Regions from separate parts of the Homo sapiens genome. Here regions 2 and 3 are each reported to be linked to region 1. The links are microRNA targets in miRTarBase. Many come from high-throughput screens and were not tested one by one. Region 1 holds a microRNA gene; each other region holds the end of a gene's coding sequence.
Evidence for each region. The annotated mature microRNA hsa-miR-6839-3p reads UUGGGUUUUCUCUUCAAUCCAG and lies in region 1 at 2,003-2,024, shown strand. An mRNA with a match to its seed (bases 2 to 7 or 8) in the 3' UTR can be bound and repressed. Matches are read on the target gene's strand: a 7mer-m8 pairs with bases 2 to 8, a 7mer-A1 pairs with bases 2 to 7 and ends in A, and an 8mer does both.

Region 1 (4,206 bases):
TTCTGGATTAACATACCCATGGATTTTTTTTTTTTTGAGATGGAGTTTCACTCTTGTTGCCCAGGCTGGAGTGCAGTGGCATGATTTTGGCTCACTGCAACCTCCATCTCCCAGGTTCAAGCCATTCACCTGCCTCAGCTTCCCAAGTAGCTGGGATTACAGGCATGCATCACCATGCCTGGCAAATTTTTGTATTTTTAGTAGAGACGGGGTTTTGCCATGTTGGTCAGGCTGGTCTCGAACTCATGACCTTAGGTGATCCACCCGCCTTGGCCTCTCAAAGTGCTGGGATTACAGGCATGAGCCACCGCACCTCGCCGGATTTTTTTTTTTATAACACCTTTCTCTCTTCTATTTTTTTTTCTGATAACATTCTTTCAGTTGCATACAGTGTGCAAAATTAAGATGTCCAAGAGTTCGGCTAGGCGTGGTGGCTCACGCCTGTAATCCCAGCACTTTGGGAGGCCGAGGCGGGCGGATCATGAGATCAGGAGATCGAGACCATCCTGGCTAACACGGTGAAACCCTGTCTCTACTAAAAATACAAAAATTAGATGGGCGTGGTAGTGGGTGCCTATAGACCCAGCTACTTGGGAGGCTGAGGCAGGAGAATGGTGTGAACCCGCAAGGCGGGGCTTGCAGTGAGCCAAGATCAAGCCACTGCACTCCAGCCTGGGCGACAGAGCAAGACTCTGTCTCAAAAAAAAAAAAAAAAAAAAAAAGGATGTCCAGGAGTTCAAAAACATGTCCAGAGACCTGTCTGTTGTAGGAGAAAATAAAAATTAGAAATAAGAGGCTTTATTCTCCTATGTGAAAAATAAGGGAGGATATTTTGCTAATCTCTTTTTTCTTAAAGGATTTAAATTATACATAGATTTTTGTCTTTGTTGTTTTGAACGATACATAAATTATATTAACAGCTAAATAAATTTTTGGTCATTGTTCTTGATTTGGGATTGTCTTTATCTGAGACCTCAGGTTTATTGCTTTGTTTTTGCTTTGGCAAATTTTTTAAAATTTTTTAATCTTTTAAAGTAGACACAGATTTGTTTAAATCAAAACTCATTTTAAGAGCACACAAAAGTTGAGCACAAAGATAGTATTAAATTTAGCAGTACTGAATAATGAGGACTAAAAAATGCTGAGTAAATTCCTTTGACAGAAAATGGATTATCCAACGTAATTATCTAATATTTGCAGGCTAAAATACTTCCATTGCAAAAGCGAGGTTCAGTGTATGAACCGAACAGTGGAGTATGTAGTTGTTCTTTGGTTTCTATTTATTACTTCAGAACAATTAGCATAGTTAGGTGTAGCATTTGTAGACAAACTGCATTCATATCAATTGAACAGTATTTTCTACACTAGTATAAATGTAAGGCCACAATATTTACTTTGAATGAATCCCTTAGTCATTTTAGTATTGTTATTCATACTTTCAAAACATAAAGTGTTTTAATTGAATTATGGTTACAGACAATATTTTAAAATCCTACATACATTATGACTAGTACACTAAAATTATTTATACTTAGGTATTTTATCCAATGTGAAAGAAAATTTACTACCAAATTATTATAGTAGATATTAGTATGATATGCTTACTAGTTTATTCAATAGAGATAATATTAGGGAAGCATGATTTTAGTGTCTTTTATTTCACTAAATTGGAATGCTGCTATTACAAGACAAATAAGGGTGATGTGGCCACTCAAAAACCATAATAGCTCTTCACTTAGCCATGATGCAAGCTCAAATATATTCCACTATATTAACAAAGTCATATTCCAATTGTTCATCAAAATGTTTTGGTGGAAATTGTCAGGCATATTCCAGTATAGATCTCCCATTCAATGGCTAGAAGATAAGAGAGCAGCAGAGATGAAAGAGGAACCTTACTTTGTGTTATGGTGTAGTCTGGATTGAAGAGACGACCCAAGCAGGCTTTGTGTGAGCAGTGAGGCTATTTATTCACTTGGGTGCGAGCTCACACGAAGCCTGCTTGGGTTTTCTCTTCAATCCAGACTGTGCCATAACACACATTTGATGCTGAAATCCGGGATAGGGGAACTCCTTTGGGAGTCGTGTCCCTTAACCCCTTCCCCCGACTTCTTGAAGAGACCCACCCGCGACCTCGGTACCTCGGACCAGCTCTGTAAAAGCCCCGCCTCTGCCTTCGGATAGGTAAGAGACCTCCATCCTTTCTCAAACTTTCCTTTTCTTAGAGAGGAGAGGACACTCACTGTCTGTGTTTCCTAAATCTAACATTGGTCATGGATTATCTCTGGGAAGACAGGCTTCCCTAGGTGACTGGTCAACCACAGGGACATGTGCCTTGGCCACTCATCCACTGCACAACCCAGATGGGGACACCTGCTGAAGGTCCTTGTGGTTGCTCTCCTCCTCGTTTCTCTCTCCCTGTCTCTCTGTTTCTTCAGTCCTCCGCTGTTCATTATGGGCACCCTTCCACCCTCCATTCCTCCTCCTTGTCCTTTGGACTGTGTCCTTAGGAATCTAAAACCGCTCCGTCTTTCACCTGATTTGGAACCTAAACATCTCATTTTCTTCTGTAATATGGCCTGGCCCCAATATAAATTAGACAGTGGCTCTCAGTGGCCAGAAAATGGCACTTTCAATTTCTCTATTTTGTGGGACTTAGACAACTTTTGTCACAAAATGGGCAAATGGTTTGAGGTTCCATACATCCAGGCATGTTTTACACTTCGGTCCCTCCCCAGCCCTTGTTCCCAATGCAATTTGTCTCAAATTCTCCTTCTGTCCCGCCCATCTGCTCCCCTACCACCCTCTGGCGACAGCGAGTCCTTCTTGTCCACAGACCCTTCCGATATTTCTCCTCCCTGCCCGTCCGACTCCGGTCCCAACCCTTCTCCAGACCCCAGTCCCCCTTCTACCCATACCATGCCTCCCTATATCCCTTCTGTCCCTACTCTGCCCCATACCCGAACTGGCTGACAATTTGGTCCCACTTCTAATCCCCCTCCTCCCACCCCACTATTTCCCCTTTGAGAGGTGGCTGGAGCTGAAGGGATAGTCCGAGTTCATGTTTCTTTCTCCCTGTCTGACCTGTCTCAGGTCAGCCAGTGTTTAGGTTCTTTTCCATAAGACTCCACTAAATATATCCAGGAATTTCAATATTTAACTCAGTCTTATAACCTCACCTGGAGTGACTTAAATGTCATCCTCACTTCTACACTCACTCCTGAAGAATGGGAGGGTGTTTGGGCCCTAGCTCAGTCCTATGCAGGTGACCACTGGCGCCTTGAGCCAGGTCTCCAGGGAGGTCCCCCGTGAGGACCCCCAGTGGAACTATCAAACAGGATCTCCTGGTATGGCCGGGCGAGATTATATGATCACTTGCTTAGTAGAGGGACTCCAAAAAGCTGCGTATAAGGCTGTCAATTATGATAAGTTAAAAGAAATCACTCAGGGCAAGGACGAAAATCCAGCCCAGTTTGTGGCCCATCTGGCCATAAATCCAGCTTTAGACCCTGAAGGGCCAGGGGCCAGAAGGCCGACTCATGCATTTTATTACCCAGTCAGCTCCCGACATTAGAAAAAAACTTCAAAAATTAGAGTCTGGCCCTCAAACCCCACAACAGGATTTAATTAACCTTGCCTTTAAGGTGTTCAGTAACAGGGAAGAGGCTACCTGGTGGCAGCGTGTTTCTGAATTACAGATGCTTGCCTCCGCCGTAAGACGAACCCCAGCCACACCAATGGCCTGTAGGGATTTCAAGGCATCCAGACCGCAGCGCCCAGCAGCCCCTCCAGGGCCATGCTTCAAGTGCCATAAAAATAGTCACTGGGCCAAGGAATGCCTGCAGCCTGGGGTTCCTCCTAAGCCATGCCCTGTTTGTGCAGGCCCTCACTGGAAGTCAGACTGTCCAACTCAAGCTGCCATCCCTAGAGCTCCTGGAGCTTAACCCCACAGCCCCCTGGCTGACTCCTTCTCTGATCTCCTCGGCTTGGCGGCTGAGGAATGACACTGCCCGAACACCTCGGAGGCCCCATGGACCATCATGGACCTCGGGTAACTCTTAAGGTGGAGGGTAAGTCCATCCCCTTTTTGATCGATATGGGGGCCACTCACTCCACCCTGCCCTCCTTTCAGGGACCTGTCTCCCTAGCCTCCATGACTGTTGTGGGAATTGACGGCAAAGCCTCCAGACCTCTCCAGACTCCACT
Region 2 (4,206 bases), not on the chromosome of region 1:
CCAAATAACACGGGGCCCAGGGATTCCACCCTCATGAAGCAGCTCCCACCAGGAGGGGACCACGCAGCAGCCAGCGCCCTGAGGCAGGCAGGGCTGGCCTGTATCTAGGACACAGGCATCCAACCCGCAGGCTTGGTAGAGGCAGGGTAGGCAGCAGGGCCCTGGAGGGACTGAGATCTGGGAGGAGTTAGGAAGGGCCAGAGGCTGAGGATCCTGACCCCAGGGCTTGTGATAGCAGTAGAGGAGAAGCAGTACTGATTCCTGGGGCTGTGTAGCCAACAGCCAAGATAAAGCCAGGAAGTAGAGCTGGGAGCCCCTGACTCCCCGCCCCCCATTCTAGTGACTGAGTCATTCTAGTCATTCTAGTGAACACCCCCCATTCAAACTCTCCTAGTTTGTACTCAGGGCAGCAGTCCCAGTGAGGGTGTGTGGAGTCCAGTGAAGGAGTGTGGAGTCCAGTGAGGGAGCGTGGAGTCCAGTGAGGGTCTGTAGAGTCCAGTGAGAATGTGTGGAGTCCACTGAGGATGTGTGGAGTCCAGTGAAGATGTGTGGAGTCCAGTGAGTAAGGGTGCGTGGAGTCCAGTGAGGGTGCGTGGAGTCCAGTGAGTGAGGGTGCGTGGAGTCCAGTGAGTGAGGGAGCAGGGAGTCCAGTGAGAGAGTGTGGAGTCTGCTGAGGCAGTATGGAGTCCAGTGAGTGAGGGTGCATGGAGTCCAGTGAGGGTGCATGGAGTCCAGTGAGGGTGCATGGAGTCCAGTGAGGGTGCGTGGAGTCCAGTGAGGGTGTGTGTGGCCACAGGGAAGCCCAAGACCGTGGAAGAGTGGACCCCTGCTTCCAGCTTTGGTTCCACGTAAAGGACTCAGTCCTTGGGAGAGGGCATCAGTTGCCCAGAAGGAAGGTCTGGGAAATGACCACTGACTGTCACATCTGACTGGGGTTCCAGCAACAGAGAGGGAGAAAGGTCTTGTTGCGGGAGTCAGGTGGAGGGTGACTGGCGTTGCCTACCTTGGGACCAGGGCCCACTGAAGGGTCTTTCCTGGACAGAATTCAGCGGCACGCTTTACAGTTCCTCTGTGTCCACCAGGGGGCGCCCATTCCTTGATAATCTTTTAACCTGGGCTCCAGTGGGAGGTCATTCGGGGACTTTGGGAGTGGTATCAAGGTGACTCTGGGCCCTGAGGTATATCCTCAGGCAGTGGTTAATTGTGTGCTAGGCTCAGGACTAGGGGTAAGTGTGTTCTGCTAGAACCAGCAAATGCTGTTCCAGGCCAAACCTTTGGTGGGATGAGGCAGCTCAGACAGCAGAGGCAGTAAGCTCTGCTGATATGGGTGTCTCAGGGGGACCCTAGCAAGGCAGCCCTGGGCCCTGGCTCATGCCTCATCCTATTGTTCCCATTTTGCAGAGGAGGGGATTGAAGCCCACAAGGTTCAGTTACTTGCCTCATGCTAACATGCCTGCCGTGTCTGTGTGCGGACCAGGGCACAGCTTCTCCCCTTTCAGGGGCCTTGCGGTAGTGGTCCCGAGCAGGACTGCAGCCTGAGGGAGCTGGGTTAGATCTGCTCTCAGCTCCAAGCGCTACCTGCCCTGTGTGGCCTTCCTTCACGGCCTTCGCCTGCACTCCTGCCTTAGAGACACCCTCCTGGGCGCCGAGCTTGGGAACACTGCAGTACTGAGTCGCCTTGGGCGGCAGAACAGAGAGGAGCCAGCGTTTTGGCTCCAGACCCTCCCTTTCTTCCCTGGATGAGCCAGGATGCAGATACCCAGGCTGTGCAGGGGGTGTGGGGTAGATACAGGTCAGAGGGTCCCTCCTACCAAGGCCTCAACCTGCCCCCGATCCTGGTGGCAGCTGCCTGGGGACATGCTGAACAAGCGGCCTGAGCAGCCCCATGAGAGTGACTAAGCTCCAGCCAGAGAAGGGAAAGGTCCCCCCAGAACTCTGGTGCCTGGTGTGAAACACAAAGGTCGGGGGGGCATGGAATGGGGTGGACACGGTGTCAAGGGGCAGGTAGAGGGAACTGGTCTCTCTTGCTCTCTTCAATGCACACATTTCCCTCCTTCCCAGCATCTCCCCTTAACCCAGGCCAGGCCTCTGCAGACACTTCAGTCTGCTCCTGGGAGTTTTCCTGCAGATACCACTGGATGGCTTCCTCAGGTCCTACCTGGGCAACAGGCCCACTAGCAGTGCCTATACCGGCCCCTGCCCCTGCAGCTCTCATTGGAGGATCCCAGAAGGTTCTAGGTGAGCTCTAATCCTTACCTCCACCTCTGAGGGCACGAGCTGGTGGCACTTCCTCCAGTTGGCTATCCTGACCCACTGCTCACAGCCCGTGTATGAATATCCAAACGGCACAGTAACTTCTCCAACTGTGTTCAAGGGGCAGGGTGGGCCTGCCCAACTAACCTAAGGGACCTGGAGACCAAAGGTTGGATGACTGCCAGGCTGCACCAGTGCCAAACCAAAACCCCGGCATTCTAAGAGGCCGGGGGGTACCACGTGCCACCAGCAGGGGGAGCCACGTCATGGAGCTAAACCTGTGAGGCCTGCAGAGGCAGCCACCACTTGGACGCTCATCCTGGGAGGCTTGGCAAGTTCCCTCTTGGCCTATACCACCAGCACCCTGCGCTCCACATAATGGCAGTCCCGTGTGGCCCGTTTCCAGTGTCTAGGACTGCAAACCCCCACCCCCAGGGCACCAGGGTCCCCATGTGGCACCCAGTGATGAAGTCCTCCTCCCCAGTTAAGGCTTCTTGGGGCAATCACTGACTGCCCCAGTGAGCAGCCCCCCCAGCCAACTGCAGCTCAGTCCCTGCCCACCCACCAGACTCTGCTGCCCATCACAGGACACATCCAACTGCCTCCCAAAATGTCAACCCACTGTCCCCAGGATCCTCCCCCTCCTATCCTTGTGCCCTGGAAGGTCTGAAGAAACTGAAACAGAAAAACCAGGCTTGAGACAGCTTTGTTAGAACAACTCAGCAAAATAAAATTCCTGTTTATTGTTGGACAACATTGTTTCACACATACATCAAACAGGCCAAAAAAAATAAACAGCAACTTCATAGACAAAAAAGGAAAAAAAAAGAAACCTTTTATCTTTGGCCTTTTTAACCATCTCATACAAACCAACTACTTATAGTACAGCTAAGTACATACACAAAAAAGTTACTGGAATGCTCGGAATAAGATTGTTTTTCTGTTGTCATTTTTGCTTTTTTTACAAGGTTTTTTTTCTCCTTTGAGATTATAATGAACATGGTCACACCACAAGTAAAGTCAGAAGTAGGACAGAGAACGCTCCGAAGGCTGGTTTGGTCATCCGAGATCATTAAAAATGGCTGACCCTAACAATATGTACAAAAATATAAAATGTAAATAAAAAATACAAACAAATTTCCTTTTTAAAGTACTTTTAAGAAAAAAAGCAGGGCCTTGGAAGTTTTGGTTCTTTTTTCCTCCCCTGTTGCAAATTCTCATGGTTTGGGTTGGGTGGTGGAGAGCGCGTGTCATCTGCGGGTGGCACTGCCCACGGTGGGCGGGCGGGCCTCTCTACTCGAAGGTGACCACGTTTAGATTCTGAGACGGGAAGTGGAGGGTGAATAGGTCACGGCGGCCTTTTTTTTTTTAGTTTAACTTTTCCTTTTTTGCTGTCTAGTCATCCTCGTCGGTCTTCTGCTTCTTGGTATCGACATCGTCATCCTAAGCAGAGAAAGACTGTCAAAGGCCCCTCCAACCCCAGGAGCCCTATCCAGCCCACTGCCTCAGCTCCTGCTGGCAGAGCAAGAACCAGGGACCCCCAGCTCCACAGCCCAAGGCCTCTGGGAAGTTGAGCCCAGCCCTGTTTCCTTCCTGTTCTTAAGATTCAGGACCACACAGTGGCCACCTACAAAGTCAGAAACAGTCCCTCCGCAGCTTGAGCACCTCAGCTAAAGGCAGGTGGGGAGACCCAGATGCCAAACCCCCCTTCTTCTCAAGCCAGAACCCACCTCATCATCTTCAGCTGCCCGCTTGCCCGTAGCTGACTCAGCTTCCTCATCTTCATCTCCATCCTCTTCCTCACCTGGAGAGAATCAAAGGCCAGGTAAACCACACTTCCCTCCTACTGTGGCTCCTGGGGAAATCCCGAGGAACATGTAGTGGACTGCAAGGTCCCTGCCCTGCCTCTACTGCCTGCAACTGGGCCCAATCAGGGCACCCACGCCCACTACA
Region 3 (4,206 bases), not on the chromosome of region 1:
TGTCTCAAAAAAAAAAAAAAAAAAAAAAAGGTGAAAAACACAGGAAGTTATGAATATTTAACAAACACCCTAGTCTGTGGGAGTCAGTAAAGTGAGGAAGTGAGACTTTAAGGATCGGCAAAGTTGGGGGTGGGAGGATGGAAGAGTGTCTTAGGTGTAAGGACCACCATGTTGAGTGAAAAGGCAGAGTGGAGCAAGATGAGGTTGGAACACTGCTAGGTCAGTGCTCAAAGGCCCTTAAGGAAGCCTCTTTCCGTTTACAACATTGGGAAGTCACTTACACATTTTAACATTTTTTTTTTCTTTTTGTGGACAACAGGATCTCCCTATATTGCCCAGGTAGGTCTTGAACTTCTGAGCTAAAGCTATCCTCCTGCCTCTGCCTCCCTAAATACTGGGATTACAGGAATGACCCACTGTGCCTGGCCATTTAAATTTTTTTTTTTTGAAATTTTATTTTTTGAGACAGAGTCTCACTGTGTCACCCAGGCTGGAGTGCAGTGGCATGATCTCGGCTCACTGCAACCTCCGCCTCCCAGGTTTACTTTCACTGAAAAATCTGCATGAGGCCTGGCGTGGTGGCTCACGCCTGTAATCCCAGCACTTTGGGAGGCCCAGGCGGGTGGATCATGAGGTCAGGAGTTCAAGACCAGCCTGGCCAACATGGTGTAACCCGGGAGTTCAAGACCAGCCTAGCTGACATAGTGAAACCCCGTCTCTACGAAAAATACAAAAATTAGCCGGGCGTGGTGGCGGGTGCCTGTAATTCCAATTACTCAGGAGGCTGAGGCAGGAAAATTGCTTGAACCCAGGAGACAAAGGTTGCAGTGAGCTAGGATCATGCAACTGCACTCCAGCCTGGGCAAAAGAGTCTCTCACAAAAAAAAAAAAAAGAAAAAAAGAAAAAAAAATTCTGCATGTAAGTGGACCCTAAAGTTCAAACCCATGTGTTCAAGGGACAACTGTAATTTCATCTTTTAATTATTTGCATTTGGCTACTCAAAAAAGAAATTGAAATAAAATACTTAGGCCAGGCACTGTGGCTTCACACCTGAATCCCAGGTAGCACTTTGGGAGGCTGAGATGATGCAGATCATTTGAGGCCAAGAGTGGGAGACCAGCCTGGCCAACAGCCTGAGAACCCCATCTCAGGTACATTGTCATGGGCCTTTGGTGCCAGCTACTCAGGGGAGTGAGGTGGGAAGATCACTTGGACCAATATACATATACACACATATTTTATTGGACAGTGCTGCTCTAGATGAGCAAAGTACAGGCTGTATCACTCATCATGTATGGTCAGCTCCTAAAATAACTGTAGACACACAGGAAGCTTTTGCGTCCACACTGCCTTAGAAGGTCATGAACATTTTTAATAAGATTGATTTAAAAAGGCAGAGCTTAATTGAAAAATGTTGATGATCACGAAATGAAGGATCCATAGTGTCATTTCCTTAGAAGGCTTAGATTTGTCACTGAAACACGGTGAAAAGCCATTTTGCCATAGAATTTCTGTGCTCTGGGAAAATGAAAGGTTTATTAAAGTACATTAAAAATCTTACAATCTGGCTAGGTGAAGTGGATCACACCTGTAACCCCATCACTTTGGGAGCCCTGAGGTGGGAGGATTGCTTGAGGCCAGGAATTCAAGACCAACCTGGGCAACGTAACAAGACCTTGTCTTTATAAAAAATTAAAAACAAGCTAGGTGTGTTGGTGAGCACCTGTGGTCCCAGGTACTCAAGAGGCTGAGGTGGGAGGACTGCTTGAGCCTGGGGGAGCCTGCTGCAATGCACTGCACTCCAGCCTAGGACAGAAAGCAAAAAAAAAGAAAACACCCCATTACTTCATTTTCATGTATAAAAAAAATACCTAATGAGCAAGTTGGCAAGACTTAATTCCAGCTTTTAAAATAAGGCTGTCAATCTTATTCCTGTAGTCTTCCCTGATTGTAATGTGCTCTCATTCTGTGATGTTTTCCAAAGGATTTTTCAAAGGAAAGCCAAACCTTATTACTTTGCTGTAACTGAAGTAAATTAACTTCAAGTTTTGCAGGCCCCCCCCACCCCTTGGCTCCAGATTTATGTTCAATCTAGTAACAAAACATTTTCTAGGCTGGCTGCAGTGGCTCACGCCTATAATCCCGGCACTTTGGGAGGCTGAGGAGGGTGGATCACCTGAGGTCAGGAGTTCAGGACCAGCCTGGCCAACATGGTAAAACCCCACCTCTACTAAAAATACAAAAATTAGCTGGGTGCGGTGGTACGCCTGTAATCCCAGTTACATGGGAGGTGGAGGTGGGAGAATTGCTTGAACCTGGGGGGCAGAGGCTCTGGCAGTGAGCCGAGATTGTGCCACTGCACCCAGTTTAGGCAACAGAGCAAGATCCTGTCTCAAAAAAACAAACAAAAAAAATTTCTAATATTTTAATATTTTATAGTCTATGCTGGAGAAGACTTCAAAGGGATAATGAGCAAAAAGCATGCAAAGAACTTGTTATAAGGCACTTTATTAAAATAAAAGTGCTTACATCCCTTTAATGCATTAATCTATCTCCTGAATAACACATGTAATATTTGACAAATACTGAATACCAAGTCTGTCCCTTATAATAGGAAAACATACTATTTTAGTAAGTTTTCTCCTTCCACCTTTTACATTTTTGCTCACCACGGTATTGACTGTAGTATAGTTAACTGGCCTTAAAAAGGGTGGTGGGGAGGGGATTTCTAGCTAGTGTTTTCTAACAGCAATTGCCAAATGCTACAGAAACTATAAAACAAATTCAAAGAAACATCCCAGGTAACTTAAATTAACACCAGTTTTGAGAAAACCATTTTTATTATCATTACCACCCAGCTTATCTGTGCTGGATTATGTACCAAATGGCCAGATCTTCTAAAGAACATCTACATAACATTTCTTTCATGTTTCAAGAGATGAAAATAACTGTACAAGGTTAAGTACAAAAGTACACAAGACAGCGGACACGAAAAAATCCATGTATGAGATTTTATCCCCACCTGCAGCTTTTATATATTTGAAAAGTAGAATTCATGAACTAAAAAATATTATCCTTCTATAGTCCTGTCAAGTTTAATGGAAGTGGGTTTAACCTGATTACAACACTAACACCAGTATCACTGATCTGATATTTACAAAAATTTGTATTTTTCAATAAATTAAAGTCAATGCAACACCCATGCAAGCTAGAGTGCTAGCTGTTTGGTGAACAAGGACGTGACATCAGAACAAGAAGTCTATAAGTCCCAAACTTTACAAGTGTGATCATTTTCAAACTGCATCCATTCCTCGCATTGAAGATGTGAAACCCAAACCCATTCCTCTTTGTGTGTGGGTTTGTGATCTTGCCATTTCATACTGAGCATCTAAATTTCGAAATACTTCTTCCTGCTGCTTCAGAGTCTTGTAACTTTCTTCATCAACTGAGCTACATCCAGCTTCATCTTCACTCTAAAAATCAGACATAAAACATTACAATGAATTCAGATGGAGATAAATATTCTCTCACTTGACACTATTTTTTATGTATTTTTTTTTTTTGAGATGGAGTCTTGCTCTGTTGTCCCGTCTGGAGTGCAGTGGTGCCATCTCGGCTCACTGCAACCTCTGCCTCCTGGGTTTAAGTAATTCTTATGCCTCAGCCTCCCAAATAGCTGGGATTAGAGGCACATGCCACCACGCCCAGCTAATTTTTGTATTTTCAGTAGAGACGGGGTTTCACCACATTGGTCAGGCTGGTCTCGAACTCCTGACCTCAGGGATCCCCCCTGCCGCCTGCCCCCCGGCCTCCCGAAGTGTTGGGATTACAGGTGTGAACTAGGCTGACACTATTAAATTATACTTTTGGCCGGGTGCAGTGTGGCTCACGCCTGTAATCCCAGCACTTTGGGAGGCTGAGACGGGTGGATCACCTGAGGTCAGGATTTCGAGACTAGCCTGGCCAACATGGTGAAACCCCGTCTATACTAAAAACAAAAAACAAACAAACAAAAATATACTTTTGGGATATGTATTTGATCTCAATAACTTAATTTCCATTCATTATTGAACACCTCCAAAGGACAAGGCAATGTTCTTTCTAGGTCTGGAATATAGCAGGGTGTAACAAAAGTTAACTTCAGTTTAGTAGGTTGGAAAAAACATAATATGTAGAAGATGTCAGGGTATAAATGCCACAGAGGA

Region 2: miRTarBase lists PTMA as a target of hsa-miR-6839-3p. Seed matches in the 3' UTR shown: 7mer-A1 at 3,478-3,484.
Region 3: miRTarBase lists RSRC2 as a target of hsa-miR-6839-3p. Seed matches in the 3' UTR shown: 7mer-m8 at 3,107-3,113.

Annotation. Positions count from the first base shown.
Region 1 is chr7:64,677,153-64,681,358 of GRCh38, forward strand. MIR6839 (microRNA 6839) reads left to right here and starts at 1,912; the gene lies at 1,912-2,024. The region is part of intron 1 of ZNF107 (zinc finger protein 107); the gene reads left to right. It also overlaps the pseudogene BNIP3P11.
Region 2 is chr2:231,712,294-231,716,499 of GRCh38, reverse strand. PTMA (prothymosin alpha) reads right to left here. Exons shown (of 5, transcript NM_002823.5): 4 at 3,984-4,057; 5 at 2,949-3,696. The coding sequence ends at 3,649. MIR1244-1 (microRNA 1244-1) reads right to left here and starts at 3,186; the gene lies at 3,102-3,186. RefSeq lists enhancers at 147-441, 969-1,208, 770-1,299, 1,300-1,829, 1,839-1,998 and 1 more and a silencer at 1,487-1,781.
Region 3 is chr12:122,502,233-122,506,438 of GRCh38, forward strand. RSRC2 (arginine and serine rich coiled-coil 2) reads right to left here. Exons shown (of 10, transcript NM_023012.6): 10 at 1,222-3,474. The coding sequence ends at 3,295. Among named protein-coding and RNA genes, the nearest start is that of ZCCHC8, 3.4 kb to the left of the region's middle. RefSeq lists a silencer at 1,837-2,037.